Linked DNA regions of Homo sapiens. The protein of the gene in region 1 purifies or fractionates together with the protein of each later gene. This does not show direct contact. Each region holds a gene or a part of one and is shown in the gene's direction. Other genes may lie near its edges. The genes, in order: ZC3H8, LYAR, RSL1D1, KSR1 and PYM1.

Region 1 (6,149 bases):
ATTCTCTTTTTGGTCCCTTAGTCCCAGAGCTTCTAGGAAAACTGATCACTATCATGCCAGTTTTCACTTATTGAGCCTTAGAGAACTTTCCTCAATTATTGTAAATCATACTTCTTTTTTCCATTTGTTTTGCGACAGGTTCTCACTCTGTTGCCCAGGCTGGAGTGCAGCAGTGCAGTCATAGCTCACTGTAACCTTGAACACCTTGGCTCAAGCAATCCTCCTGCCTTAGCCTATAGTCCCAGAGTAGCTGGACTACAGGCGTGCACCACCACACCCAGCTATGTTTTTGTAGAGACAAGATCTCTAGGCTGCCTAGGCTGGCCTTGAACACTTAGGCTGGCCTTGAACTCCTAGCTTTGAGCAGTCCTCCTGCCTCAGCCTCCCAAAGAGCTGGGATTACAGACATGAGCCACTGCACCTGGCCCCGTACTTCTTAAAAGTAAACTGCTATTGTAACTTTATGTCATTTTTTAAATTAATTTTTTGTTTTTAGCTGCTAAACAAAAAAATAAAAATCTTAAAGCTGGTCACAAGAATGGCAAACAGAAGAAAATGAAGCGAAAATGGCCTGGCCCTGGAAACAAAGGATCAAATGCTTTGCTGAGGAACAGCGGCTCACAGGAAGAGGTATTGGAATATATGCTTCTAGGAATACCTGACCCCTGCATGCTTTTGGACTTGATCTTATACTTCAGTGACAAGAAGTGCTATGTGATATGGAGAGGTGGAAGCATCCCACAGAATCGGTTTTCGGATGAAGATGTCCTTTTACTGTCACTGGGTTCTCTGTGTTCTTCCTTCTTATTGCAGCTTTCTTTTTCTCACTGATTAGCTGCCAGCACCACTTTTAAGCCTTAGCGTTCTCACTGTTGTTCCTGAATATATGCACACAAGCTCCTTGATTTTTTTTATTATTGTTATACATATATTTTTTTGAGACAGAGTCTCGCCTTGTAACCCAGGCTGGTGCGATCTCGGCTCACTGCAAGCTCCGCCTCTCGGGTTCAAGTGATTCTTCTGCCTCAGCCTCCTGAGTAGCTGGGACTACAGGCGCCCGCCACCATGCCCGGCTAATTTTTGTATTTTTAGTAGAGACAGGGTTTCGCCATGTTGGCCAGGATGGTCTTGAACTCCTGACCTCAGGTGATCCACCTGCCTCGGCTCCCACCACCCACCACCTCCCTAAGTGCTGGGATTACAGGCATGAGCCACTGTGCCTGGTCACTCCTTGATTTTTTTTTTTTTTTTTTTTAGTGTTATACTATCAATGACTCGGGAAAAATGGGAAGCCCAGAGAAGATCAAATAGTCATGAGGCATTTCAAAGGCCACTGAGTCTTACAAATTTTTTACTACTAAAGTCCCTCATCCTGGCTCCCTCTGGAAATTAAAAATCAATATTTCTGAGCATTGGCCTTACTGAATCTCCCCACTCCCCACCTTCCTGTATTTTGATTTTGGTTTTTAGAAGTTCCCTTTCCTTGGTCTGTAGATGTAAGCAGGGTAGAATAATAAGTACCTCTTCTGGATTCCACTTTTCTGAGGGCTTTTAACTGGATGGCAACTTTTTTTATTAGGCTTGGTCATATGGGACAAGGGTAAGGGGTGGTAAAATATTAGAAATGCCAAATATTCTAGATTGAAAAACATTTATATACAGTCTGTCCCCTGCCTCCATATTTTATGAATGAGGAATCTGAAGCCCTGTGGTTCAGGTAATTACCCATAGTCACACAGGGCCAAGCCAGGACTAGGATTTTGTTTCTCAACCCCCTGTCAATATTCTCTTTGATTTGATTTACATGGCTCAAATGATTATTCAGCCAAAGCTGACAGCCCTTCTACACAAGGAACAAATTCTAAACATATATATAGAATTTAATAATGTTACCAAATAAAACAAGATTTAAACTGGCAGATATTTATAAGACATAAATTTGATGGTGCTAAGTGGAAATTTGACATTATTATAAATGACTGTACAGTCAGCTCCCTTGTTTGTACATACTGTATTCCTAAAACTGTATGCAAAAATTTGGTATACAGAAGCTGTAATCTGTAGCATAAGTTAACATGTAAAAAGTACCTTATGTTTCTGAAGAGCTTAAATGTATTATAAGATTTTCTTCCTTTTTTTAATGTAAAAATCTCCTTTTATACCTTTATCACCATCTTTGACGGTGTATTTCTAGTTGCGTGTGTTAATTTGAGCTGATAAGTGTGCTCAACTCACACCCAGTGAGCATCTCATTGAAACTATAGATTCCACTGCTTTTGGTTCACTCTGATTTCCAACTTTGTCTCTACCACTCTAAAGATCTTCGTTCTTAGACTTCGGTTTTTAATCATAAATACTATCACTTTCATTTAATTTTTTTTTTTTTCTCCCTGAGATGGAGTCTCGTTCTATTGCCCAGGCTGGAGTACAGTGGTGCAATCTTGGCTCACTGCAACCTCTGCCTCCTGGGTTCAAGCGATTCTCCTGCCTCAGCCTCTAGAGTAGCTGGGCTTACAGGCGCACACCACCACTCCCAGCTAATTTTTGTATTTTAGTAGAGATGAGGTTTCACTGTGTTGGCCAGGCTGGTCTTGAACTCCTGACCTCAAGTGGTCCACCCGCCTCAGCCTCCCAAAGTGCTGGGATTACAGGCGTGAGCCACTGTGTCTGGCCCATTTAAAAAATTTTTTTCATTCATTTTTACAAAATAAAGGCAATGTATCATAAAATATTCAAATCAATACAAACATTAATATTCAATGATGGAATGCTGTTGAAACTGACAAAACATTCATTTTTAACCTGGTGTACAGAAATCCAAATTTTACATATGAAGGCCAATTTAGAAGAGTCACCTTTAAGGCTCTGAAGTTGGTTTAAATAATTTTGTGCAACAGAATAAAATATTTAATTTTCTGTTTCTTACATTTAGTTTTTTTGTTTTTGTTTTTAAAGGATGGTAAACCTAAAGAGAAGCAGCAGCATTTGAGTCAGGCATTCATCAACCAACATACAGTGGAACGCAAGGGAAAACAAATTTGTAAATATTTTCTTGAAAGGAAATGTATTAAGGTATAAAAATGTGTAAGCAAAAATCTACTAAAATGTAAAACTGCTCTTTCTGTTTGATACTCTTTTAATTCATACCTTTAGGTTTTTAAAGCTGTTTCATTCTGGAAAAAAATCAGTTAGAAAATTTTAGTGAAGTATTCTTTTATGTTTAAAAAAGTAGCCAGGCCTGTAATCCCAGCAGTTTGGGAGGCCGACGTGGGTGGATCACCTGAGTCAGATAATTTTTATTTATGTATTTATTTATTTTTTTTGAGATGGTGTCTCACTGTGTCGCCTGGGCTGGAGTGCAGTGGCGCATTCTCGGCTCACTGCAAGCTCCGCCTCCTGGGTTCATGCCATTCTCCTGCCTCAGCCTCCCAAGTAGCTGGGACTACAGACGCTAGCCACCACACCCAGCTAATTTTTTTTGTATTGTTAGTAGGGACGAGGTTTCACCGTGTTAGCCAGGATGGTCTCGATCTCCTGACCTCATGATCCGCGCACCTCGGCCTCCAAAGTGCTGGGATTACAGGCGTGAGCGACTGATAATTTTAAAAAATGCTTTATGTTTAAAAATGTTTGGGACTTAAGAAGATTTTAAGCAGATATATGTGATGTGGTTATAATTTATTAACAGTTAGAATGTGCTACCTCTAAGACTTTGGTTCTTTCTGGAATCATTTGCTTATTTAAAGTTTAGTAGGAATTAAATCATAATGACTTGACTATGAGAAATAATGGCTTTTCCTTGCTCCTTCTTTTGGCCTAGGGAGACCAGTGTAAATTTGATCATGATGCAGAGATAGAAAAGAAAAAGGAAATGTGTAAGTTTTATGTACAAGGATATTGTACCAGAGGTGAAAACTGTCTGTATTTGCATAATATCCTTTATCACAAGATATGGTGACTTTATAAATATTTACATGAACATTTTAAATGTGCAAAATTTTTAATGAAACCAGTGTTTTAGGTATACCAAAATGATATTATCCAAGCCCAACTTAGTATCAAAGTGATTAAATTGTACGTGGATTTTTTCATAAGCAAGAAAAGAGGGATTCTTTAGAAAATCTCTCAAATGATGATTCTTTCTGCTCAACCTGGGTGGTATAGAGGGTCCATGAGACCTCTTCAAATCCCAGAAAGACTTATCACAATTTCTACTGTGACACTGATTAATTGAATCTATATTCAAATAAGCTACTTCATAAAAAGGCAAGGATTACATAATTTGGGAGTACCTGTTTTCTGTGTATTCTGTACTGTGTAGAAATTAATCATCCCTTAATTTGCAGAATAGCCTTAGCTCTTCAGTGCAAATGGCACAGACAAGTTGTAAAAACATGGAACATAAACATTTTAGGTTAATAGCACCTTTAGTCATCACAAAAAAATTTTTTTCTTCAGGCATTCAATATAAGGAGTATCAAATTGTAATTTGAGGATTGTTTTCCTAGAAAATATTGAAGTTATATAAATTTATTCTGTTGTAAACAAGTCTAATGTACAAAGGATCCAGATTTGTAAGATATGTCGTTGTTGACTTTGATTCCTCCACCCCCAAAGGAATGCTTTAAAAATGATCACATTTATCAAGGTATTTAAAATATATACCCCTTTCATATATGAAACATGCCTGTACTCTATTATAAGAATGGATATGAAGGAAAAAAATGTCCTGTCATAGCCAAGAAACTTGATTTACGTATGTAGTCCTTCTAAAATTAGATTTTTAAATGTATTCCAGTTAGTTTATTATCTCATACTTTAAATAGAGAAATCCAGTTTCTGCTAGTAGGAAAGGTCTTTTTTTTTTTTTTTTTTTTGAGACATTATCTTGCTCTGTTGCCCAGGCTGGAGTGCAGTGGACAATCTTGGTTCGCTGCAACCTCCGCCTCCCAGGTTCAAATGATTTTGGTGCCTCAGCCTCCTGAGTAGCTGGGATTACAGGCATGCCTGCGCCACCATGCCCAGCTAATTTTTTTGGATTTTTAGTAAAGGCGAGGTTTCGCCATGTTGGCTAGGTTGGTCTTGAACTCCTGGCCTCAAGTGATCTGCCCACCTCCGCCTCCTACAGGCATGAGCCACCTCGCCCGGCCACAGAGGTCTTTATTTAGGAAAAATAAAGTCATTAAGTTAATAACATTATTTCAATTGGATTAAAATTGTTCTCTTCCTTAACACTTGGGTTACATGAATATCCTTGTAAGTTTTACCATACAGGAACAAAATGTTATCAGGGAGAATACTGCAAGTTTTCTCATGCTCCACTGACTCCTGAAACACAAGAATTGTTGGCTAAAGTAAGTATAATTTTTAATAATCTTTTGTTTTTTCTTTTTTAAGGAATATGTTTGAACTAAGGATGAGAATTTGAAGATAATTAAGGAGAGTGCCTCTTAGGTTAGCATATGGGATATATTAGGACTAATAACTTAAGAATTCAGTTTAAATATTTTTCATTTGTATATGTTTCCTTGTAGCTGAAAGGAAGATGTATATTCATTGCTGATTTAAGTTGGAAAGATGTAAAATCTTCAGTATAATTAGCCATTTTAATAGCTAAGCTAAGCTAAACAAAGCAAATCAAATAAGAAAAATAGTACTCCTGTTATAAAGATTCTTGGAAGGAAAGTTACAAGTTACGGGTTTATAAACATTTTAGAATTACATCAAATAATAGTTAAGTAGTAATTTCAAAATGTTTTCTTCAGATATTCTTTCAGTCTGTGAGAAAAGGTTATTGAAAAGTTACAGTCATTTGTATTCTTTCATTTCTCATGTTAGTTGGAGCTAGTCTCTTAAAAATTTAATCTAAGTATACATGAAAATTTAAAAGATTCTTTTGAAGCCAACCATACGATCTTCTGGCAAAATGTTCCCTTGAGCATATGTAAATATTACAAAGTCAAAGGTGCTTGTTTATAGATATTTTTAGGTTGTAAAATATGAATGGTTAATGTGGAATTAGAAGTTGTACCAAATATTTAGTTGTTTATTTGTGTGAAATAGATATGGAAAAGTGATATATATGAAATAAGTTTTTCAGTTCCTGTAGTAGTAGTAAATAATATTAGATGATTATTAGGATGAATTTG
Region 2 (6,149 bases), on another chromosome or scaffold:
CCCCTGGTAAACCCTGAGCTCTGCGAAACGCAGCTTGTCATCCCTTACCTCTGCCTTTGCACCACGGCCCTCCCAGCATACCCTGTGTTTGTAGTGCAGAGCAGAGGGTCCTGAGGCCTTGTCCTCCGTACCTTGGTTGTTTATCCTCCTGTAACTCTGCCAGATGTCAGGTCGGATGCTTTTCTGTCCTCTACCCCATCACAGTTCACCTGATCACTGTGGATGCAACTGTAATTAGGCCAAGGTCCTGGCTGGTTGGAGCTGTGTTCTAGTGGGGGAGATAGGCACCACGTGCGGGTCCATGGTGTAATGTCAGGTCCTGATCAGCACTGGGAAGAAGCCAGAGGCATTGGGAGGCCAGGACTGAAGGAGGTGCTCGATTAGGAAAGAGTCAGGGCATCACAGAGGAGACCACATTTGAGGAGAGTGTGTAATGAGGTAAAAAGAAGATGGGGAAGAATTGGTTCACCTATTTATTGAGCAGCTACCAGATGGGTAAATGTGTGCCTCCCTCCCTCTCTCCCTGTGGCCGAGGAGTTGGTTTAGACAAAGAGGCAAGGCACCAGCTGAAAATCTGGTCTGGATTGTGTAGAAGGGATGCCAGGGTCTCAGGCTCTCAGTGGTTAAAATAATATTTTATGGCGGGCACAGTGGCTCATGCCTATAATCCCAGCACTTTGGGAGGCTGAGGCAGGCAGATCAGTTGAGGTCAGGAGTTTGAGACCAGCCTGACCAACATGGTGAAACCCTGTCTTTACTAAAAATACAAAAATTAGCTGGGTGTGGTGGCAGGCGCCTAGAATCCCAGCTACTCGGGAGGTTGAGGCACAAGAATCATTTGAACCTGGGAGGCGGAGGTTGCAGTGAGCTGATATTGTGCCACTGCACTCCAGCCTGGGTGATAGAGCGAGACTCAGTCTCAAAAAATCATAATGATAATAATATTTTACTAGAAGATATCGACAGAATTGTAGGACAGATGTGAAGTTTCTTTGTCCCCTTCTTCCTAAGTCTATTTCTGAAATCCTCCTCTGCCCTTTACCCCATGAGCCTTGACAACCTGATGCTGCTAAGCCACTGCTACTGAGAAAACCAGGTGGTTACATCAGTATCCATTTTCTTTTCTTTTGAGACGGAGTCTCACTCTGTCACCCAGGCTGGAGTACAGTGGCACGATCTTGGCTCACAGCAACCTCTGCCTCCTGGGTTCAAGTGATTCTCCTGTCCCAGCCCCCCGAGTAGCTAGGATTACAGGCGCTTGCCACCACGCCTGGCTAATTGTTGTATTTTTAGTAGAGACAGGGTTTCACCATGTTGGCCAGGCTGGTCTCAAACTCCTGACCTCAGGTGATCTCCCTACCTCGGCCTCCCAAAGTGCTGGGATTACAAGCATGAGCCACCGCACCCGGCCTACAGTATCCGTTTTCTTTTTTTTTTTTTTTGAGACAGAGTTTCATTCTTGTCACCCAGGCTGGAGTGCAGTGGCGTGATCTTGGCTCACTGCAACCTCCACCTTCCGGGTTCAAGTGATTCTCCTGCCTCAGCCTCCCCAGTATCCATTTTCTAATGCTGCTCTTGTAGCCAAGGATCGAGCCTTAAGGTCTGAGTCCTGAGTCCTTGCACTCTAGTGAAAGCTTGTCCTTTTTTATTTGGTCCAGTTTTGAGGACATAGTCCTTGCTACCCACAATCTCCCAAAGGAGGAAGACTGTAGGTAACTTACCCTGTCCTTTGGCTAGACTAACAGAGACGGAATTTGAACCCCCGCCTGCAGGTGCATCAGCTCAGTGGTTTCTCACACCTGGAAGCAGCCACTGGCCACTCTCTTTCCCTCCAGAGGCATCAGGGAACATGGAACAGTTCAATGAATTGCTCCAGGTCATCTCTTGAGAAAGGGGCTCAGGGAGGGAGTTCAGGAAGGAATGGGACTGAACTTGCTGATGTCACTGTTTAAAGTAGGCTCTATGTGCTGATTTTAATAAGGTAATGCAAGGCCTGGCGCTGTGGCACACACCTGTAATCCCACCACTTTGGGAGGCCAGGTCGGGCGGATCACCTGAGGTTGGGAGTTCAAGATCAGCCTGGCCAACATGGTGAAACCCTGTCTCTACTAAAAATACAAAAATTAGCCAGGTGTGGTGGTGCATGCCTGTAATCCCAGCTACTCAGAAGGCTGAGACAGGAGAATCACTTGAATCTGGGAGGTGGAGGTTGCAGTGAGCTGAGATTGCACCACTGCACTCCAGCCTGGGTGACAGTGAGACTCTGTCCCAAAAAAAATACATAAATGAGGTAATGTATTTAACAGGGGTAACCATTAGAGAGACACCTCCATACGTAAAGAATGGTGACCCCGTCTCTACAGAAAATAAACAATTTTCCGGTTTTGATAGCTTGCGCCTGTGGTCCCAGCTACTTGGGAGTCTGAGGCAGGCGTGTTGCCTGAGTCTGGGAGCTGGAGGTTGCAGTGAGCTGAGATTGTGCCACTACATTTCAGCCTGTGCAACAGAACAAAGCAAGACCCCTGTCCCCATTAAAAAAAAAAAAAGAATGATGAGAATGGTGACCATTCTTCTAATGGTAACTTTCCAGTCTGAATAATGATGATAATAACAGTACCATTTTCTAAGGCTGATAATTTACAAAACTCTTCACACACAATGGGCTGGTTTATTGGGCATGTGTTATGCTAATAAGCACATGACGGATCTTTCCTCGTTTCATCCGTCCGTGTGTGAGGTAGGTATTACTACCTTTCATTTTACAGATGAGGAAATAGGTTTGGAAAAGATAAATGACTTGCCCTTAGTCACCTGACTAGGAATTAATAGAACTGGAGCTTGAACCCAGGTCTGCAGACACATAACATCCAGTGGTTTCTACCACCCCTAAGTACTCTTCTCTTATCTAAAAGGTGAATAGTGAGCTGGAATGAAAGGTCTTATCTTCAGCGACATAAGGATTCTTCACTTTTCCAGTGGAATGAAAATGTCTGTTCTGTGCAGACAGAGGGGTGTGGACTGGGGGAAGTGGTTTCCCATTTTGTATATTTACTGCTACATTTTAGCTGTTGGTGGGGGTCACAGTTATAAAACGATAAGGGATTAAACCAACCGTTTTTCTTGAACAGTTTATGTAGTAGGCCCAGGCAATAACGTGACAACTCTATTTACACATTTAAAATGAATATGTGTTTCTTGCTTTTGCTTAATGATAAGGAACCAGTCAATAAGGAACAGGATCAACGGCCACTCCACCCAGTGGCAAATCCACATGCAGAAATCTCCACCAAGGTTCCAGCCTCCAAAGTGAAAGACGCCGTGGAACAGCAAGGGGAGGTGAAGAAGAATAAAAGAGAAAGAAAGGAAGAACGGCAGAAGAAAAGGAAAAGAGAAAAGAAAGAACTAAAGTTAGAAAACCACCAGGAAAACTCAAGGAATCAGAAGCCTAAGAAGCGCAAAAAGGGACAGGAGGCTGACCTTGAGGCTGGTGGGGAGGAAGTCCCTGAGGCCAATGGCTCTGCAGGGAAGAGGAGCAAGAAGAAGAAGCAGCGCAAGGACAGCGCCAGTGAGGAAGAGGCACGCGTGGGCGCAGGGAAGAGGAAGCGGAGGCACTCGGAAGGTAAGTGGCTAGCTCACGCTCTGGGATTCATCTGAAAACCGGGAAAGCTGTGAATTTGGGATATTTAAGCCTGTTAGACCTAGCGTTTTGTGTGCGTGTGTGTGTGGTTTTTTTTTTTTTTGTTTTTTTTGAGACGGAGTCTTGCTCTGTTGCCCAGGCTGGAGTGCAGTGGCACGATCTCAGCTCACTGCAACCTCCACCTCCCAGGTTCAAGCGATTCTTCTGTCTCAGCCTCCTGAGTAGCTGAGATTACAGACGTGTGTCACCAGACCCAGCTAATTTTTGTATTTTTAGTAGAGATGGGGTTTCGCCATGTTAGCCTGGCTGGTCTCGGACTCCTGACCTCTGGTGATCCGCCCCCCTCGGCCTCCCAAAGTGCTGGGGTTACAGGCATGAGCTACCGCACCTAGCTAGACCTTATGTTTTGAACCAAGTAAGGGAACGAGCATAAGCTTTGTGGCCAGGCAGAGGTGGGCCCTGCCCAGGCAAATGACCTCACTTCTCAACTCCTTTCATCCCATCTCCAGCATGGAGGAGGATAAAACCCTCCTGGGGTTTTATAAACCGGGGCTGGGCAGCTTGGAGAAGAAATGAGATGATACGTGGAGTTTGCCTAGCTCGCATAAGGTCTCATTAAATGGTAGCTGCTAGCGTAAATGCAAAATCTTCTTTAAAAAAAATCTTTCCAAATACTTAGTTGAAACAGATTCTAAGAAGAAAAAGATGAAGCTCCCAGAGCATCCTGAGGGCGGAGAACCAGAAGACGATGAGGCTCCTGCAAAAGGTATATCACTGCTGTCATTTGAGGAGCACGGCTGGGCACAGCGGCTCTCGCTGATAGTCCCAGCTACTTCAGAGGCAGGGGCAGGAGGGTCACTTGAGCTCAGGAGTGTGAGGCTGTAGTGAGCCATGGGCGTACCACTTTCAAAAAGCGAGAGAGAGAGAAAAGAAAAGAGAGAAATACACGGTCCCTTGTAGGTTGGGAGAGGGGCCGAGAGATGCCCCCTTCTGGGGAAGGAAGGTGTAATGTGGGCACTTCTAGTAGGGTCTTACCCTCCAGAGGTATATATAAGAATTTGAAAGTAAAATCAGTTCTCTAGGGTGTGTGAGTCAGTCTTACAGTGCCTCTCACCCACTGTCTTTAAGGAGAAAAGTAAAGCAGTCTGGTTTGGAAATGTATGTTATCTTTGAAATTTAAATAAGCCCAATATAGCTTTCTGAGACCCGGTTCCCTTTCGCTCCTCCCCAACTCTCTTGCCCCTGCCTTTCACTGTTCTCTTAGAAGTCCCCTGAACTGTGCCCCTGCCCATCTCTGGGCCTGTTTCTGGGGTCTCCTTGCTTGTATCCTCAACCTCAGAATCCAGTCCCTGGCCTTCACGGGCCCTCTGAAATGCTGTCTCTTACACAAAGCTTCTCTCCTGCTTCTTCAGGCCTGAAGCACTCATACCTGTCGGGAGGTGGCAAGTCGTCATCTCTCTGCCACCTCCCCCAACCCCCAGGATCCTGCAGTTCAGAACAGGTCCAAAGACTCAAATGGGCCTGCAGCTTTATTAGCAGAGTTCAGTGACTGCCAGCATTGGGTTAGATCTCTAAGCTTAAAACCCCCTTCTCAACTTAGTAAACAGTAGTGTCCCCATATCTGTGGGATGGAAAATTCCAGAAATAAACAATTGATAAGTTTTCCATTGCATGCTGTTCTGAGCAGCATGGCGAGATCTCTTGCTGTCCTGCTGTATGCCTTCTTCACCACAAGAAGGGTGAGGATAGGACAATAAGATATTTAGAGAGACACAGAGAGACCACATTCACATAACTTTTATTATAGTGTATTGTAAAATTGTTCTATTTTATTATTAGTTATTGATAATCTTTTACTGTGCCTCATTTATAAGTGGAGCATTGTCATAGGCATGAATGAATATTTAGGGAAAGACAGTATATATAGGGGTTCAGTACCATTGTGATTTCAGGCATCCACTGGGGGTCTGGGAACTGTCCCCTGCAGATCAAGGGGGACAACTGGAATGGTTATTTTTGTTGTTGTTGTTACATTTTTTGTTTTGAGATCCTTGTAGACTCACATGCAGTTGTAAGAAATAATGGAGACTCAGGCGTCCTTATGTATCCGCGTACCCTTTACCTTGTTGCCACCCAGGATAACACTTTACACAACTGTAGTACAGCATCTCAGCCGGGATGTTGACATGGATACGCTTCCATTTCCATCGCCATTGCGCAAGGCTGCCTCCTGCTGCCCTCTTGTAGCCACAGCCACTTCCCTCTCACCCCCACCCCCTCCTTAGCCTCTGGCAATCACTAATCTGTTCTTCATTTCTGGAATCTCCGAATGTTCTATGAATGGAATCATACAGTATGTAACCTTTTGAGACTGACTCTTCGCTCAGCGTTTTTCTCTGGAGATTCACCCAGGTTGCTGAACTGACCAATATTCATCTTATTGGTGAGGAGTATCCCGTGCTGTGCGTGCATCACAGTCCTTTCATCATTCACCTGTGGAGGGACACCTGGG
Region 3 (6,149 bases), on another chromosome or scaffold:
GAAAAACAATTATGGGTTGCTTTTGAATGAGAATGAAAGTTTATTTTTAATGGTGGTATTATGGAAAATTCCAAGTAAAGAACTGAGGGTCAGATTGTAAGTTGTGATTTTCTACCTTTGCTGTTTTTATCTGTGTGTTTATTCTTTGTAACTCGAACAATTGCATCATGGTTACTAATGGAAACTTTGCAAACTTATAATAAAAATCTGACGTGAAGTAAAACAACTATGTCCAAAAGAACCATAGAGGCTTGATGTGGTGGCTCACACCTGTAATCCCAGCACTTTGGGAGGCCGAGGTGGACGGATCACCTGAGGTCGGGAGTTCAAAACCAGCCTGGCCAACATGGTAAAACCCTGTCTCTCCAAAAATACAAAAATTAGCCAGGCATGATGGCGGGTGCCTGTAATCTCAGCTACTCGGGAGGCTGAGGCAGGAGAGTGGCAGTGAGCGGAGATGTCTCCATTGCACTCCAGCCTAGGCGACAGAGCAAGACTCTGTCTCAAAAAAATAAAAAATAATAAAAAATAAAAGAACCGTAGAAATTCAGATGTGCTAAAATTTTCTAGAAATTTCACCAGTTTTCTTAGAGCTTGGTGGACAGCTAACGTAATCAGGTCTGTTGAATCGAAAACGTGGTGTTCGAAAGAATAAAGGTGGAATAAGTTAAACAGCTTTATTTTATTTTATTTTTTTATTAGAAACTGTTATCTTTCCATGTCAAGCAAAAATTCTTTGGGGCTACAATTTATTCCTTTGTACAGAGACTATTAAAAACTGCAGTGAATTTCTGTCTATGGAAAAGAAATCCATGGTGATTATACAGAATGCTTCTTCAGAACATAGGTTGTAAGCATAAGAAATGAGTTAAACCCTTGTATTTTATTTTCTGTAAGATGTGGCATAATTGTGTTTGCTGGTCCCTCTTGGTTTAGTCCATGTTTTTGGTTTCGATTCTTTTATCTCTCCTTTTTTTTTTTTTTTTAAGAGACGAGATCTTGCGCTGTTGCCCAGCTGGAGTACAATAGTGAGATCTGTGTTCACTGCAACCTCAACCTCCCTGACCTGACTCAAGTGATCCTCCCACCTCAGCCTTCCAAGTAGCTGGGACTACAGGTGCACACCACCATGCCTAGCTAATTTTGAAATCTTTGTGGAGATGAGGTTTCACTGTGTTCTCCAGGCTGGTCTCGAACTCAGGCTCAAGCAGTCCTCCCTCTCAGTCTCCCAAAGTGTTGGGATTACAGGCATGAGCCTCCATGCCTGGGCTGTTTCAATTCTTAAAAGTTATGTTATGCTGGGCATGGTGACTCATCCCTGTAATCTCAGCACTTTGGGAGGTGAGGTGGGTGGATCATTTGAGGCCTGGGAGTTTGAGATCATCCTGACCCAACATGGCGAAATCCCATGTCTCCTAAAAATACAAAAATTAGCCAGACATGATGGTGGGCGTCTGTAATCCCAGCTGTTTGGGAGGCTGAAGTGCAAGAATCATTTGAACCCAGGAGGCAGAGGTTGCAGAGACTCCAGCCTGGGCGACAGTGAGACTCCCATCTCAAAAAAAAAAAAAAAAGTTATGTTGGCTGAGTGTGGTGGCTCACACTGTAATCTCAGCAGTTTGGGAGGCTGAGGCAGGTGGATTGCTTGAGCCCACAAATTCAAGACCAGCCCAGGCTATGTGGCGAAACCCTGTCTCTACGAAAAATACAAAAATTAGCTGGGCCTACACCCAACTGGTACGTGCCTGGAGTCTCAGCTATGCTGGAGGCTATCGTGAGCTATGATCACACCACTGCACTGCAGCCTTGGGTACTGAGCAAAACCCTGTCTCAAAAAAAGGAAAAGAAGAAAGAGTTATTATGTTTATGGAGCTAAGAGTTTTAAAGAAGGTAAAATTCTGAACCAGGCTTGTCCTGATTAAGCTAGGTTTTTATAGCGCATTACAGTACGTGTGCACATACAGCAACATATGTATAATAATTATATATGCAAGCATTTGGAAGTCTTTAAGTATATTTTAATTCTTGTTGTATCCCAAGTGTTAATTGATATTTGGGCCTGTGTGTTTTTGTGATTTACTTGCCATTGAAAGTGAGTTTTGTTTTTTGTTTTTGTGTTTTGAGACGGAGTTTGCCTCTTGTTACCCAGGCTGGAGTCCAGTGGTGCGATCTTGGCTCACTGCAACCTCCACCTTCCGGGTTGAAGCGATTATCCTGCCTCAGACTCTCAAGTAGCTGGGATTACAGGCACCTACCACCGTGCCTGGCTAATTTTTTATAATTTTAGTAGAAACAGGGTTTCACCATGTTGGCCAGGCTGGTCTTGAACTCCTGACCTCAGGTGATCCATCTGCCTTGGCCTCCCTAAAGTGTGGGATTACAGGCTTGAGCCACTACTACCGGCCATGAAATGTATTTTTAAGTGTTGTTCTTGGTGCATTATTTGCTTAACTAGCATGACTAAAAGTTATTTAAATAACACTAAGTTTATCGCGTATTCTGTGTGATACAAACATGCATAATGTGTGTAATAATGCTTTCCTCGGTTTCTTTTCACGTATTTTGTAGGACCTTGCCTCATAGTATTCGATCAGATTCAGAAGATATCTGTTTATTTACGAAGGATGAACCCAATTCAACTCCTGAAAAGACAGAACAGTTTTATAGAAAGCTTTTAAACAAGCATGGAATTAAAACCGTTTCTCAGGTAGGAAGCCTGGTTAATATTTTCAAGTTATTTAGAGGATTTAATTCAGGCGAAATGGTATCACAAATACATTGCTATATTTCCTAGTATTTTTCTTCTACTTTTCTCTTTTTAATTTAATTTGTGGTGGCGTGTACATCAGTAGCTTTTATATCTTGCAAATTATAAAAGAGGTGGCTCGTGTCATTCCTCTGTACTTCCACAGCATCTTGTTTTTCTCTGATTTGCTGTTTTGTAGTTGGTGTACTTGTCTTTATTACCCTCTGGATCTAAGGTATCTAAGTTTTTTTGTTTGTTTGGAGTCTCGCTCTGTCGCCCAGGCTGGAATTCAATGGCAGGACCTCGGCTCACTGCAACCTCCACCTCCCAGGTTCAAGCTATTCTCCCACCTCAGCCTACCGAATAGCTGGGATTACAGGCACCTGCCATCATGCCCGGCTAATTTTTATATTTTTATAGAGACGAGGTTTCACCATGTTGGCCAGGCTGGTCTTGAATTCCTGAGCTCAGGTGATCCACCCACCTCGGCCTCCCAAAGGGCTAGTATTACAGGCGTAAGCACATACAGCAACATATGTATAATAATATATATATGTTGCCCACCTAGATCTAAGTTGCTTTAGCTGGGGTCTTTTCTCATTTGTCTCAGTGTTCCCAGCATGTAGCGTAGTGCCTGGCACATTTTAGGCCCTCAAGTGTTCATTAAAGTATAGAGGCATGGCTCTAGGACATTTTTAAATCCAAATCCAAATTGTTGCCTAAGTATTTCTTCTCCTTGTTTAGATTCCTAACTTCTTGTTTTTATTCTTCTCTATACTTCCTAGATTATCTCCCTCCAAACTCTAAAGAAGGAATATAAATCCTATGAAGCCAAGCTCCGCCTTCTGAGCAGTTTTGATTTCTTCCTTACTGATGCCAGAATTAGGCGGCTCTTACCCTCACTCATTGGGAGACATTTCTATCAAAGAAAGAAGTAAGTTTCTTAGTAATGACTGGACTTTAGCAGCATGAAGCTTCTAGGTGTGTATGCATTGTGTTCTGAATGCCTGTGTGTTTATTTTGTAGAGTTCCAGTATCTGTAAACCTTCTGTCCAAGAATTTATCAAGAGAGATCAATGACTGTATAGGTGGAACAGTCTTAAACATTTCTAAAAGTGGTTCTTGCAGGTAGGTAAAAGGCATTCATGTGTGCCTCTTTTAATCTTGTATTTGACAATGATTTTATATATACTTATTCGTTTTGTTTTGTTTTTTGTTTTTGTTTTTTTTTTTTGAGATGGAGTCTTACTCTGTCTGCCAGGCTGGAGTGCAGTGGCACCATCTCGACTCACTGCAAGCTCCGCCTCCTGGGTTCACGCCATTCTCCTGCCTCAGCCTCCCGAGTAGCTGGGACTACAGGCGCCTGCCACCACGCCCGGCTAATTTCTTTTTGTATTTTTAGTAGAGACAGGGTTTCACCGAGTTAGCCAGGATGATCTCGATCTCCTGACCTCATGATCCGCCCGCCTTGGCCTCCCAAAGTGCTGGGATTACAGGCGTGAGCCACTGCACCTGGCCTTTTTAAAAAGATTTTGTTAATGGCTCCAGATCCTTTTTTAAAACTAAAATCTATTCCTCAGAAGTGATCAATTCTCGGGTCAGGTGCAGTGGCTTATGCCTGTAATCCCAGCACTTTGGGAGGCCTAGGCAGGAGGATCGCTTGAGCCCAGGAGTGCAAGACCAGCTTGGGCAACATAATGAGACCCTCTCCCCCAGCCAATTACAGAAAAATCAAGAACATTAGTCAGGTGTGGTGGTGCATCCCTGTGCTCCCAGCTACACAGGAGGCTGTGGCAGGAGGATCACTTGAGCCTAGAAGGTCAAGACTGCAGTGAGCCATGTTCTTGTCACTGTTCTCCAGTCTGAATGACAGAGCAAGACTGTCTTTAAATGAAAAAAAAAAAAAGTTCAGTTCTCTAGAACAATGTTGTCTGATAGCACTTTCTACTGTGATGGAAATGGCCTGCATCTGTGCTGTCTCATACAGTAGGCACTATTTGTATGTAGCTATTGAGCACTTGAAATGTGGCTACTGTGTTAGAAGCTGAATTTTTAGTTAATTTAAAATAGGCACATGTGGCTAGTGGCTGATGGTCACTGCATTGGACGGGGCAGCTCCAGATACTAAGAAAAGCAAGGAGAGTAAGATGAATGCTTGGAGAACATGACTAGTTCTAGGCTTTGAGCTTGTCCTTTATCGTGCCACTGCACTCAGTGGTGCAGTCACAGTTCACTGCAACCTCCAACTCCTTGGCTCAAGCAATCCTTCCACCTCAGCCTCCTGAGTAGCTGGGACTACAGACACACATCACCATACCTGGCTAATTTTTCAATGTTTTGTAGCGGCGGGGTCTCACTATTTTGCCCCATCTAGACTTGAACCCCTAGACAAAACCGGTCCTCCTGTCCTGGCCTCCAAAAGTGTTGAGATTATAGGCGTGACCCACCACACCTGGCCTCAGATTGTCCTTTAAAAGCACCATATTACCCCTTAACGTGAAGATCCACCTCATTCTTGGTTTAACTTCCTATTAAATGAATTCAGCACTTATCCTGTTCATCTGCCTATTTGGTGTGTGTGTTGTCATATTGGTTTAACCTTACCCTGGATACTGAGCTAGGCGGAGCCCCCACACCTAGTCTTACCTACTAGAACAGATGTTTTAGGGCAGTGATTGCTTCCAACCTCTGGCTGAGCAAAGGATGCGGTTCAGGCTATTTTATTAGGCTGAGAAGTGACTTAAGTTTGTATTATTGGCAGTGTATCAGCTTGGGGAGGTAGGGCAGGTTTTAAATGTATTGAAAATACATTTTATGAAGTACTGCACTTGCTGACTGCGGTGTGGAGATGGCTAGCTGCCAGTAAGGCAGAGCTGTAGGCCACTGCCCTTCCACCCAGAGATTCCCCAGGAGCCGTGCAGACCCAGTGGACACAGTCGGCAGAAAACAACACAGACTTCTTGCCTCTGCTCACCAGGGAGGCCTGACCCCAGGGGAGTGTCTCCAGGTAGAGCAGAGCAGGGTACTGGTGGGCAGGACAGGTGGTCTCTGGTGTTGTCTTTAGCCTGCTGCTGGGAATCCCTTCATCAGGTGTAATGAAGTAGCCTAGAAGAGTTGGTCACGGAGCCTAGACCCCTACCCCTTTGGTTAAAGGCTAATGTCAAAGTAGTGGCTCATGGAAGTGGTTGGCTAGAAGTTCAGGCCTTGTTTATGGGACCCATGAGTATCTGGGAGAAGAAGATGGTACCATGAAGGCAGGTAAAGGAGCAGCAGTCTCCTGCCACTGGGGATTTTCCAAGGCAAAAGCAACAGCTTAAAGAAAGTTGCAGACAATTGAGAAAAAAAGAAATCATTCTTTATTTCCTCTCTTACCTTTCCCCAGCAAAAGAATTTATTTTCCTCT
Region 4 (5,893 bases), on another chromosome or scaffold:
GGCCTGGCTGCCTTGCATGCACCAGGGGCTTTCTTCCTCCTAATCAACAACTCAGCACCGTGACTTCTGCTAAAATGCAAAATGAGATGCGGGCACTAACCCAGGGGATGCCACCTCTGCTGCTCCAGTCGTCTCTCTCGAGGCTACTTCTTTTGCTTTGTTTTAAAAACTGGCCCTCTGCCCTCTCCACGTGGCCTGCATATGCCCAAGTAACTGCTCTCAGAGGATCCCACTAACTGAGCTCCCTCCAAGGCAGTCTGGGCAGCTTCTAACTACCTTCCTGGACATGACTGATTGCTCCCGTGTTCTTCTGAGGGCTGGTCTTGTTTTTGTTTGGGTGGCTCTGTCTCACTGCTAACACCTTAGTGAGATGCCTTCCACCCTCCTGAGCACACCAGCCTCCCACTGGGTGTGTGCCTAGTGCGGGGCGGGCGGAGGTTGGGAGGGTGTTGGCTTGGCTTTTAACCTGTGGGGATTTTGTCCAACAAGGAGTGGAATGATTTCAGAGCTGCCCTGAGGCTGGCACCCTGGTCACAGGAACCCTCTGCGCTGGCTCCTGTCTCAGTCCCCTCTGTAGAGTTAGATCAGAAGACACAGAAAGTTCTGTGGCCATGAAAGATACCAGCTTGGAAGGGTTGTGTCTTCAGTGGCACCCTCAGAAAAATTGTCTTAAAGCAAAGAGGTACCTGGCTCCAGACAATTTTTCTGATGAAAACAAAGTCTCTGCCCCGTCCCCACCCTGCCACCCTGGCAAAGTTACTTCCTTTACAGCTGCCCAGTGTACCATAGACCAGACCCCAGGTCAGCATTTGTCAAGAGCATGGCTGCTGAGTCCCCTGTGGCAGTCAATGCACTGTTTACCAAATGCAGGTTTCTGTTCTCCCTCCCCAGCAAGACCTGCTGAACCCAGATCTCTGGAATGGGGCCCTAGGAATTTGCATTTCAACCTGCTTCCCAGGTGGCCCTGATGCACCCCAGTATTAGAGTTTATTGCTAAAAGGAACATGCCCTGTCACTCCTGGTATCCTGGGAGTCATGTTTCTCTTCTCTCTCAGTTCTACTTGGAGCAAGAGCTTTCCTGGGCTGCAAATGAGAAAACAATTCCTAGGAACCCACAGCAGTACTGAGCATGCTGGGAGCTTGGGACTTGGAGATGAATGAGCCACCGTTGCTGCTCCAAGTAGGACTACTTGGAGTGTAGCTGAGGCCTTGGACGCAGTATGACCAGGGGCAGCTCTGCCAGGGCTGTTGGCCAATCAGTCATTTTCATTTCTTGTTGGAGGCCAGGTCCTCTGCTGAACTCATTTCCTAGCTAGTGTTACCCTAATTCTGATGAAGATCAATGGGGCTATAATTCTTGTTTTTGTTCCTCTTTGCAGCATTAACAGCAGCAAAGTTGTACCCCGGTTTGAAAGGTTTGGCTTGGGCGTCCTGGAGTCCAGTAATCCAAAGATGTAGCCAGCCATATGGTTTTTCGCTGCTGATCTCTTTCTTTTTAAAATGTGTTTCTGAAACATCCCAACAACCACCACGACAAAAAAACACTGCCTGCCCAGCGCTGCAAACCAGGAGCACACGTCCTAGATTCAGACTGTTGGCCATAAACCCCACTCGGGAGATGGAGCTGCACCTGCTATTTCTTAAAATGACACCACCAACAACCAAACCTGTCATGACAGACAGCAAATGTTTACACGTATATTTCTCCTGAGTGAACCTGATGTTTTACAATAGGTAATAATAAAAACAGTCTGTGCAGATGCACTGGCACTGACGGCCAGGATGGCGGAAATGGCCATCCCCTCTGAGGACCTTGTAGGCGGTGAGGGACCCATGCTGGGCCAGAAGGAAGACAAACATGGTAATTGCAGCTGTTCTTGGGGTAGGGCGGGGAGCCCAGAAGGTCTGATCTGGCCTCTGCTTTTTGGCCCAAGACTCCATCAGGGAAATCTATCTAGGGCTCTCCCCTTGTCCTTTCAAAGGGATACTGCCCCTTCCTCGTCTTGCAGAGGAAACCCTGGCTAGGAACTGAGCTAGTTTATGGAGTCTGGAATTCCTGGAGAGCTTGGGTTCACCTTCTCACCCCTGTAATCCAGGCTGCTCCTGCTGGAAAAGTAGAAACAGAATCCAAAAAAGGTCTGGACTCACCCGGTGGTTCCCAGCCAGGGTTTCTGCTGCAAGGTGAGGAAACATCCATGGCTTGTACAGATGTGAGTCTTTGATGAAGCCCCCAGGCAGGCACCAAGGTGATGGGACTCAGGGCCTTGGCTTTTAGATACATCCCAGTCCCTGACTGACATCTGACCATGAGGGCTGGATGGGTGGGAACAAGGAGGAGTAGATGGCAAAAGTACCTGAGCCCACTTCCCAGCCACAGGGTGACCCTGGCACTGTAAAAACCCTTTGTCAGTCATGCCAGAAGGTTCTAGAACTGCCCACCTCTTCCATTTCAGTCCTGCTGAAACCCCTTAGCCTATTTCCGACTCCTCTGTCCATGCTCTGAGTTCAGCTGGGCAGTGTGTGGGCTATCACCCCTTTCATTTAGACCTACCTAGCTGGCCCCCATCTGCAGAGCCTTCCTTAGCACCATTAGGCCTTCTACTTGTGTCCATTTGAAGCAGGAGGGGCTGGATTTGGAAAAGTCTTTGAAGTGAGAGCACCACGCTTGTCTTCGTTAGAAACTCTTAACTGCAGAAAAAAGTTCCAGATGGCAAGGGAGCCCTTAAGTGGAGATTAGGTTGCATTAGACTCCAAAACCAGAAAGGAAAAAGGGTGATGGGAGTGGAGACGTGATTGGATTCAGGCCCAGAACCTGTGACCATGCTCTGAGCTCAGACTTGGGGAGGGAGGGGTGTGGCTCCCACCCCTTCCAGTTAAGACCTGCCTAGCAGAGCCCCAGTCTCCAGCCCCTTCCCTAGCACCAGAGTCTGGTCAAAATGCCACAGAAAATGAGCTGCTCTGCCAGCAAGCTGTGGAGCTGCCTCCTCTCCAGGCCTGGCATCCCTTGGTCAGCCCCTCCTGGGAGGGCACAGCCGTATTACAGTGCCAGTGTGCCTGGCCATCAGCATCTTCACCCTTCCCAGTCTGTGTGGGGAGGCTGTAAACCCCGTGGATTCAGCTCCGTGTGGAGTTTCTGTGCTATGGTGGGACTGCTCATTTTGCCCCATCATCCCTTTGGCCTCCCACACACCTGCCCCTTCCCAGGGATCACGTGTGTCTCCAGCCTTTCACCTTTCTATTGCAATGGTGGCCTTTGTCCAGGCAAGAGCAGGCCTGATGGATGTACTGGTGAGCCCCACAGTTGGATGTCAGCTCAGCCGTCCAACTGGGAGGAACAGTAGGCTCAGTTCCTCCCTGACCCCTGACACCAGGCCGCAGTGGGCATGCACAGGCCCACAGAAAGTCAGTCTGGGTTTTGCTTTTCTCGTGAGCATCACAGTTAAAGAAGCGCTCATTGAGCAACTACAGTGCACTTGGTCTTCTGCAAGTGCTGGGCACCTAGAGATAGGAACAGTCATGGTCCCTGCTCTTAAGGAACTGATGACCTGGTGGGGCCCTGTTGTCTTCAAGGAACCCAGAAGCCACTGGGCCCCAAAGGTGGAACTGAAGGACTGGGGGCAGCTGGCTCTCAGCCTGCCACCTCTGCACTGCCTGCCTTTAAAGAACCCCACCCCACCCCATGATGGCCCCCTCTGTTCCCCTTGTATTTCAGTGACTGTGAATTGAGGTTAGGAAGGCACACCTGCCCTTCTGTGTGCTCTCTCCACACGAAGGATGACAGATACTGTGAATTCAGCCCTCACGGCCAACTGTGAAGGGGATGGAGAAGGCTGGGAGGGCTCGGGGAGAGCTCTTAGGGGCTGCGGAAGTCCCCACGGGGGTCTGAGAGTGGAGCCCAAGCTTTGGCCCTCCAGGCATCCCCAGTTTCCAGCCTCACCTCTGAAGCCCTGCTGCCTTTAACCACCAGAGCCGCAGCCCCCTGGGTTTCTGTCTAACTCGAAGTCTTGAATCCTAGCTAGTTTGGGGTTGTGAGCAGTGTGTAGCAAAGTTGATCTCTCCATGTCACCAAATCAAAACACCCTCTGTCATCCTACGGCATTTCCTCTTGAGGTCACAGAGAGGAATGGCAAGCCCTGGAAACCTGTGTTATTCTGTGTTGATTTGGTGTGGGGGGAGGGTGGAGACGTAAATGTGAAGCCAGTTGGAGTTTGTGCTATGCAGCAGTGTTAGCCAGGATCTCATCAGCGTGCAAACCTAGCATCTTCTGTGGCCACAAGCCACACACTTGCTTTTTTTGAATGTGATGTAAAATTTGTACAGTAAAGTTTTTATATTTTCTATCAACTACATTTGTCTTCCAGACATGCTATTAATTTAAATTAAAATGGTTAGTATTAACAAACATGCTGTATCGGGTTTTTTTGCCACTGGCAAGAACATGCCCTCTGTGCTAAGCCAGGCCTGGGTGTCTGGAGTTTGTGAATAAAGTTATACCAAGGTGTTCTGGGGCTTGTCTTTGCTTTGGTCAGTTCCAGCTGAGTCCTGGGGACCATTTGGATGGGTGGCATGGGAATGGATAGGTCTGGGGTGACTGAACCCCTGGTCTATAGATTAAGGAGCTCCTTCCAAAGGAAGAAGTTATGCCAGGACCTCAGTGGCAGGTGTTTCTAAACAGATGGAGGAATGGAGAAGGCACAGCGTCAATGGCCCACAATGCGCAGAGGAAGATCATCCAGGCCCCAGCAGCAACAAAGCCATGAGCAGGCCCAGCATCTCCTGAGCTGGAGATGCCTTAGCCTTATGGAAGCCTTGGAGGGATGAGGTGGTGTTCATCTGAATCCAATATCTAGGAGCCCCTCATTGCCAGTTATATATACAGATAGGTGGAGAAGAGGTACTTTCTAAACACCATCTCACTTTAATCCTCACAAGGCCATGAGGTAAGAATTGTGATGTTTCAGCTGAGGAAAATGAGAAACGGAGAGGTTAAGGTATTCACCCAAGATCACACAGCTGCAGGGTGGCCAATCCAGGACTCAGGCCACAGCTTTCACTCCAGAATCTCTCCAGAAGTCTAGGAATTTGCTGGTCAGACATTTACTGAGCACCTACTATGTTCATAAGACAGTGCTAGGTTGTGGAGCATTTTCCAGGATAGGCCGCGTGGTAGGCCACACATTAAGTCTCAATAGATTTAAACATAACATACAAAGCATCTTCTCCAACCACAATAGGATGAAGTTAGGCAGCGGCACTAGATTCTCATAGGGGCACAAACCCTATTGTGAACTACACATGTGAAGGATCTAGGTTGTGCGCTCCTTAGGAGAATCTGAGTCTAATGCCTGATGATCTAAGGTGGAAAAGTTTCATCCTGAAATCATTGTATATCCCTTTCCATCCGTGAAAAATTGCCCTCCATGAAACTGGTCCCTGGTGCCAAAAAGTTTGGTGACTGCTGCCTTAAACTACTACTGGATTTACTGAGTGAGGCAAACCAAGTACTGTTTTGTCATAGTCTGTTTACAGGAGAGAGTTGCACTGTTAATTTGCCATTAGGAAGCAGTTAGAACCATATATCTGACTTTATGGAGGTAGAATACGCTCAAAGAGAATGTTCTCAGTGGGGGGGATGTGCATGCATGTTTTAGTGATTAATGTGGTTCAGTACGGCTGTACCAATACAATGAGGTTTCCAAAGGGAACTGGACAAGACGACCCAGGGCCCCCTGCATTGTACGACAGGACTCAGGTGTCTGCGGGCATCACTGACTGCCCTGCCGAGGCCCTCTGTGCTGGAGGTGTCACTGCAGATGGAAGGATTCCTTCTTGAGGAAGTCTACTACTGGCGAAGGTGAATGGGTCTGGGCGCAGGATCAGTGCAGTCCAGGAG
Region 5 (6,149 bases), on another chromosome or scaffold:
CCTCCTCATGTATATCAGTTATCAAAATATCATTCTTTTATTCCTACTGCTGTTACCCTTATCCCATCTACAGTACTTGTTAGCTATATAGCCTTGGGAATCTAAGTCTTAGTTTTCTCATCAATGAAATTGGAATAACTCCTGCAACACAGGATTATTATGCGTATTAAAATTTAAATAAAGTAATTTACATGTTTGGCACATAAAAAGTGTCCAACACATTGTTCTATAATTATTACTATTATGTAAGGGTCATTGTATGGGTTAGAAGAAATTACTATATATGGCCAAGTACCAGGCATAGTACTTGGGCCATTCCAAGTGCCTGCTAAAATTCTAGTTTCTGTTGTTCTGCAAATATTACTGTGACCTCCTAAACTGGTCATCGTATTTCCAGTCCCTCTCTTGTTTCATTTCTACAGATACACTGCTACCAGATTACTGCTTCTTAAGTGCAAATTTAGTTATGTAATTTTTGTTCAATATTAATTCATCAACCCAGAGTCTGCTGTTATATATGGCATATATCTTTCTAAACTGTTTTAAACATAGCAGAACCAGATGGTATATACATTTTTATATCTTGCCTTTTCATTTAGCCTTATGAGGTAAATGTTTTTCCTTGCTATTAAAAACTCTGTAAACATCTTTTAAAATACTGGCAGAGTGTTTTATAGTTTGGGCATGCACCCTATCTTACTTTCTTCTGTTATTGGACTTTTAGATTGTTTTCAGAATTTTTATTATAAGAACACTAGAATGTTTTTGTGCATGCATCTTTTTCGGCATTTAGGGTTATTTTCTTTTTCTTTTTTTTTCTTTTTTTTTTTTTGAGACGGAGTCTCGCTTTGTCACCAGGCTGGAGTGCAGTGGTGCGATCTCTGCTCACTACAATCTCCACCTCCTGGGCTCAAGTGATTCTCCTGCCTCAGCCTCCCGAGTAGCTGGAATTACAGGCATGCACCCCCACTCCCAGGTAATTTTTGTATTTTTAGTAGAGATGGTGTTTTACCATGTTGTCTAGGCTGGTCTTGAACTCCTGGCCTCAAAGGATCGCCCACCTTGGCCTCCCAGAATGCTAGAATTACAGGCATGAGCCACCGTGCTCGGCCTGATTTTTTAAATTATCTGTAAGATGAGGTCTTGCTATGTTTCCCAGGCAGGTCTCCAACTCCTGGGTTCAAGTGATCCTCTCACCTTGGCCTCCTGAAGTGTTGGGATTATAGGCATGAGCAACTAGTTTTTCTTTTCCTTTTTTTTTTTTAAAGAGACAAGGTCTTGCTCTGTTGCCCAGGTTAGTGTACAGTGGCACAGTCATAGCTTGCTGTAGTCTTAACTGTTGGGGTCAAGCAATTCTCCTGCCTCCTCCTCCTGAGTAGCTGGTACTAGTACTACAGGCATGCGCCACCATGGCTGGCTAATTTTTGAATTTTTTTATAGAGCTATGTTGCCCAGGCTGTTCTCAAACTCATTTTCACAAGCAGTGCTCCCACCATGGCCTTCCAAAGTGGTGGGATTACAGGCATGAGCCACTGCACCCAGCCTAGTTTTTCTTTTTTCTTTTTCTTTTTTTTTTGAGACGGAGTCTTGCTCTGTCTCCAGTCACCCAGACTGGAGTGCAGTGACGCGATCTCTGCTCTGCCAACTGGGCTCAAGCTATTCTGCCTCAGCCTCCCAAATAGATGAGATTACAGGCACGCACCACTATGCCCAGCTATTTTTTTGTATTTTTAGTTAGAGATGGGGTTTCACCGTGTTGGCCAGGCTGGTCTCGAACTCCTGACCTCAGGTGATCTGCCTGCCTTGGCCTCCCAAAGTGCTGGGATTATAGACGTGAGCCACCATGCCTGGCCCCCAGCCTAGTTTTTCTAAGCACATATGCATATATAACATTAAGGTAAAATGACATATTTTGAATTATACTGTTAAGATTGGCTGTTATTTTCTAAAATATGAATCCTTGAAACACCTAGTAATCTTCTGAGATGTGACACAAAATAAATAACTAAAATAGAGGCCGGGAGTGGTGGCTCACGCCTGTAACCTCAACACTTTGGGAGGCTGAGGCGGGTGGATTGCTTGAGCCCAGGAATTCGAGACCAGCCTGGGCAACATGGCAAAACCTCGTCTCTACTAAAAATACAAAAAATTAACTGGGTGTGGTGACACACACACTCCTGTAGTCCCAACTACTTGGGAGGCTGAGGTGGGAGGAATTGCTTGAGCCTGGGAGGTGGAGACTGCAGTGAGTCAAGGTCCAGCTATTGCACTCCAGCCTGGGTGACAGTGACCTCATCTCAAAGATAAATAAAATAAAATGCAAATAATGTTTCTGTGCACAAATTTTGAGAAACACTGTAAACCATATTCCCATCTTGCATATGTACCTGAATAAGAACATAGTAACTCATTTAAGCCTTGCTGTTAAAAAAAACAAACGCAAAATCTTTTTTGGTGTTTAACCCAGAATTTCCCAAACTTATTTAACAATTTTTAGGGATAACCCCTGTTTAATATCTTATGGGAGTAGTATTTTACATAACAAAAGCTTTGGGAAATGTGATTAAATGATAGGACTACCTTTTTTATTTTTGTTTTTTTGAGATGGACGCTTGCTCTGTCGCCCAGGCTGGAGTGCAGTGGTGCAATCTCGGCTCAGTGCGACCTCTGCCTCTCAGGTTCAAGCGATTCTCCTGTCTCAGCCTCCCAAGTAGCTGGGACTACAGGCACGTGCCACCACGCCCAGCTAATTTTTGTATTTTTAGTAGAGACGGGGTTTCACCGTGTTGGCCAGGCTGGCCTCAAACTCCTGACCTCAGGTGATCCACCCGCCTTGGCCTCCCAGTGCTGGGATTACAGGTGTAAGCCACCATGTCCAGCCTAATTTTTAAATTTTTTATAGAGATGGAGGTCTTACCATCTTACCCAGGATGGTCTTGAACTCCTGGGCTCAAGTGATCCTCCTACGTCAGCCTCCTAGTGTGCTGGGATTACAGACGTGAGCCACCATGCCTGGCCTATTTGTTGATTTCCATTTTTATTTTAGATTTAGAAAATGTGCAGGTTTGTGGTTGGGCGCAGTGGCTCACGCCTGTAATCCCAGCACTTTGGGAGGCCGAAGCGGGCGGATCATGAGGTCAGGAGATTGAGACCATCCTGGTTAACACGGTGAAACCCCATCTCTACTAAAAATACAAAAGAAACTTAGCCGGGCATGGTGGCGGGCACCTGTAGTCCCAGCTACTCGGGAGACTGAGGCAGGAGAATGGCGTGAACCCGGGAGGCGGAGCTTGCAGTGAGCCGAGATCACGCCACTGCACTCTAGCCTGGGCGACAGAGCGAGACTCCGTCTCAAAAAAAAGAAAAAAAAAAAAAAGAAAATGTGTAGGTTTGTTACATGGGTATAATTATGTGATGCTGAGGTTTGGGGTATGAGTGATCCCATCACCCAGATAGTGAGCTTAGTACCCAATAGTTAAGTTTTTTTTTTGTTTGTTTGTTTGTTTTTTGTGATGGAGTCTTGCTTTGTTGCCCAGGCTGGAGTTCAGTGGTGTGATCTTGGCTCACTACAACCTCTATCTCCCGGGTTGAAGTGATTCTCCTGCCTCAGCATCCCAAGTAGCTGGGATTACAGGCATGCACCACCATGACCGGCTGAGTTTTGTATTTAGTAGAGTTGGGGTTTCACCGTGTTGGCCAGGCTGGTCTCCAACTCCTGACCTCAGGCGATCCATCTAGCTTGGCCTCCCAAAGTGCTGGGATTACAGGCGTGAGCCACTGTGCCTGGCCCCAGTAGATAGTTTTTAAACCCGTGCCCGCCTCTAATAATCCCCAATGTCTGTTGCTGCCATCTTTATGTCCGTGAGTACCCAGTGTTTAGCTCCTACTTATAAGTGAGAACATGCAGTATTTGGTTTTCTGTTCCTGTGTTAATTTGCTTAGGATAATGGCCCTCAGCTGCATCCATGTTGCTACAAAGGACATTATTTTGCTCTTTATGGCTGTGACAGACTACTTTTTATTTAATTAATTAATTTTTTTTTGTTTTGAGATGGAGTCTTGCTCTTGTTGCCCAGGCTGGAGTGCAATGGTGCGACCTTGGCTCCCTGCAACCTCTGCCTCCTGGGTTCAAGTGATCTCTTGCCTCAGCCTCCCAAGTAGCTGAGATTATAGGCACCCACCACCACGCCCGGCTAATTTTTTTTATTTTTAGTAGAGACGGGCTTTCACCATGTTGGCCAGGCTGGTCTCGAGCTCCTGACCTCAGGTGATCCACCCGTCTTGGTCTCCCAAAGTGCTGGGATTGCAGGCATGGTGAGCCACTGCGCCCAGCTGACAAACTACTTTTTAAATTTTTTTTTATTTTTGAGACAGAGTTTCACTCTGTTGCCCAGGCTGGAGTACAGTGGTGTGATTGCAGTTTACTGCTGGCTTGACCTCCTGGGTTCAAGTGATCCTCCCAGCTTAGCCTCCCAAGTAGCTGGGATTACAGGTGTGCGCCACCATGCCCAGCTAATTTTTGTAGAGAAGAGGTTTCACCATGTTGCCCAGGCTGGTCTTGAACTCCTGGATGCAAGCGATCTGCCTGCCTCAGCCTCCCAAAGTGTTGGGATTAGAGGCATGAACCACCACGCCCAACCTCAGACTACTTTCTTTTTTTCTTTTTTTGAGACCGACTTTTGCTGTTGTTGCCCAGGCTGTGGAGTGCAATGGCCTGACCTCGGCTCACCGCAACATCCACCTCCCGGGTTCAAGTGATTCTTCTGCCTCAGCCTCCCGAGTAGCTGGGATTACAGACATGTGCCCCACACCTGGCTAATTTTTGTATTTTTAGTAGAGACGGGGCTTTCTCCATGTTGGTCAGGCTGGTCTTGAACTCCTGACCTCAGGTGATCCGCCCGCCTCTGCCTCCCAAAGTACTGGGATTACAGGCGTGAGTCACCGTGCCTGGCTGACTACTTTTAAATGTAGTATTATCACATGCTATGTTTTTGCCCATACCCTCTAGTGAAACTGGGCTGTATGGCTGATGTGGAACAGCAGTGCGATGGTGTGTAAGCTTTGGCATCAGACTTGAGTTCAGGTTACAGATATGTGCTACCTTTGGGATCTTGACCATGTCTTTTTTTTTTTTGAGCTGGAGTCTCACTCTGTCACCCAGGCTAGAGTGCACTGGTGTGGTTTCAGCTCACTGCAACCTCTGCCTCCTGACTTCAAGCAATTCTCCTGTCTCAGCCTCCCGAGTAGCTGGGATTACAAGCATGTGCCAGCACGTCTGGCTAATTTTTGTATTTTTAGTAGAGATGGGGCTTCGCCATGTTGGCCAGGCTGGTCTCGAACTCCTGACCTCAGGTGATCCGCCCGCCTTGGCCTCCCAAAGTGCTGGGATTACAGGCGTGAGCCACCGCACCAAGACTTGACCATGTGTTTAACCTCTTGAAGACTGTTTCCTTGGCTGTAAATGATGATATCTATCTATCGTTTAGATTTAACAGGATGATGTATACAAAGTTCCTCCTGTAATGTAGCTACTTATTAATAAATACTCTTTACTAATCATTCTTAAATACTGAGTTTTCCACTGCTAGGATTTTGCTTTTGTTGTTCCTCTTATCCCCTTTCCCTTTTCTCTGCCTGCAGAAATACTGGCTGCTGATTTGTTGTTATCATTAATTATTACTACTTTCTAGTCTTTAGTGTCAAATGAGGTTTTCCTGATTATCTCCTGTCATCTCTTAGGATACTTACGACACTCTTACTTTTGTCTTATGCTTTGCTTGCCTAATTTGCCCACTTCCTCCTTACTTAGTCTGTAAATTTTTTGAAAATTGGGACCATCTTACTCATCTTGATAACCCTATTGGCACTTACGGTACTTTTCTTCTAGGAGGCTTTTTTTTTTTTTTTTTAAAGATAAACTCTTGCTCTGTCGCCCAGGCTGGAGTGCAATGGCATGATCTGCAACCTCTGCCTCCCAGGATCAAGTGATTCTCCTGTCTCAGCCTCCCGAGTAGCTGGGATTACAGGTGTGTGCCACCAAGCCCAGCTAGGAGGCTTTTAATGTTTATTTTGTTTAATTTGTAGTCTGGCCTCTTTACCACCGTGCTTTTCTGAGGCTGTATTTGTGGAGATAACCAGGGATTTCCAAA

What was found.
Region 2: the proteins of ZC3H8 (region 1) and LYAR purify together in Homo sapiens (affinity purification with mass spectrometry; one large-scale study listed by BioGRID and IntAct). This does not show direct contact.
Region 3: the proteins of ZC3H8 (region 1) and RSL1D1 purify together in Homo sapiens (co-immunoprecipitation; 2 studies listed by BioGRID and IntAct, with this or other methods). This does not show direct contact.
Region 4: the proteins of ZC3H8 (region 1) and KSR1 purify together in Homo sapiens (co-immunoprecipitation; one large-scale study listed by IntAct). This does not show direct contact.
Region 5: the proteins of ZC3H8 (region 1) and PYM1 purify together in Homo sapiens (co-immunoprecipitation; one large-scale study listed by IntAct). This does not show direct contact.

The regions. Positions count from the first base shown.
Region 1 is NC_000002.12:112,231,043-112,237,191, reverse strand, and holds part of ZC3H8 (zinc finger CCCH domain-containing protein 8), read left to right. Parts: intron 1-496; coding exon 497-630; intron 631-2,955; coding exon 2,956-3,072; intron 3,073-3,820; coding exon 3,821-3,932; intron 3,933-5,244; coding exon 5,245-5,354; intron 5,355-6,149.
Region 2 is NC_000004.12:4,271,837-4,277,985, reverse strand, and holds part of LYAR (cell growth-regulating nucleolar protein), read left to right. Parts: intron 1-3,216; coding exon 3,217-3,619; intron 3,620-4,316; coding exon 4,317-4,403; intron 4,404-6,149. UniProt on the Homo sapiens protein: Plays a role in the maintenance of the appropriate processing of 47S/45S pre-rRNA to 32S/30S pre-rRNAs and their subsequent processing to produce 18S and 28S rRNAs. Also acts at the level of transcription regulation.
Region 3 is NC_000016.10:11,844,226-11,850,374, reverse strand, and holds part of RSL1D1 (ribosomal L1 domain-containing protein 1), read left to right. Parts: coding exon 1-96; intron 97-2,568; coding exon 2,569-2,707; intron 2,708-3,531; coding exon 3,532-3,680; intron 3,681-3,772; coding exon 3,773-3,874; intron 3,875-6,149. UniProt on the Homo sapiens protein: Regulates cellular senescence through inhibition of PTEN translation. Acts as a pro-apoptotic regulator in response to DNA damage.
Region 4 is NC_000017.11:27,621,935-27,627,827, forward strand, and holds the end of KSR1 (kinase suppressor of Ras 1), read left to right. Parts: coding exon of another isoform or gene 1-1; exon of another isoform or gene 2-1,379; coding exon 1,380-1,458; 3' UTR 1,459-4,501; downstream 4,502-5,893.
Region 5 is NC_000012.12:55,915,320-55,921,468, reverse strand, and holds part of PYM1 (partner of Y14 and mago), read left to right. Parts: intron 1-3,720; exon of another isoform or gene 3,721-4,492; intron 4,493-5,936; exon of another isoform or gene 5,937-6,026; intron 6,027-6,149. UniProt on the Homo sapiens protein: Key regulator of the exon junction complex (EJC), a multiprotein complex that associates immediately upstream of the exon-exon junction on mRNAs and serves as a positional landmark for the intron exon structure of genes and directs post-transcriptional processes in the cytoplasm such as mRNA export, nonsense-mediated mRNA decay (NMD) or translation.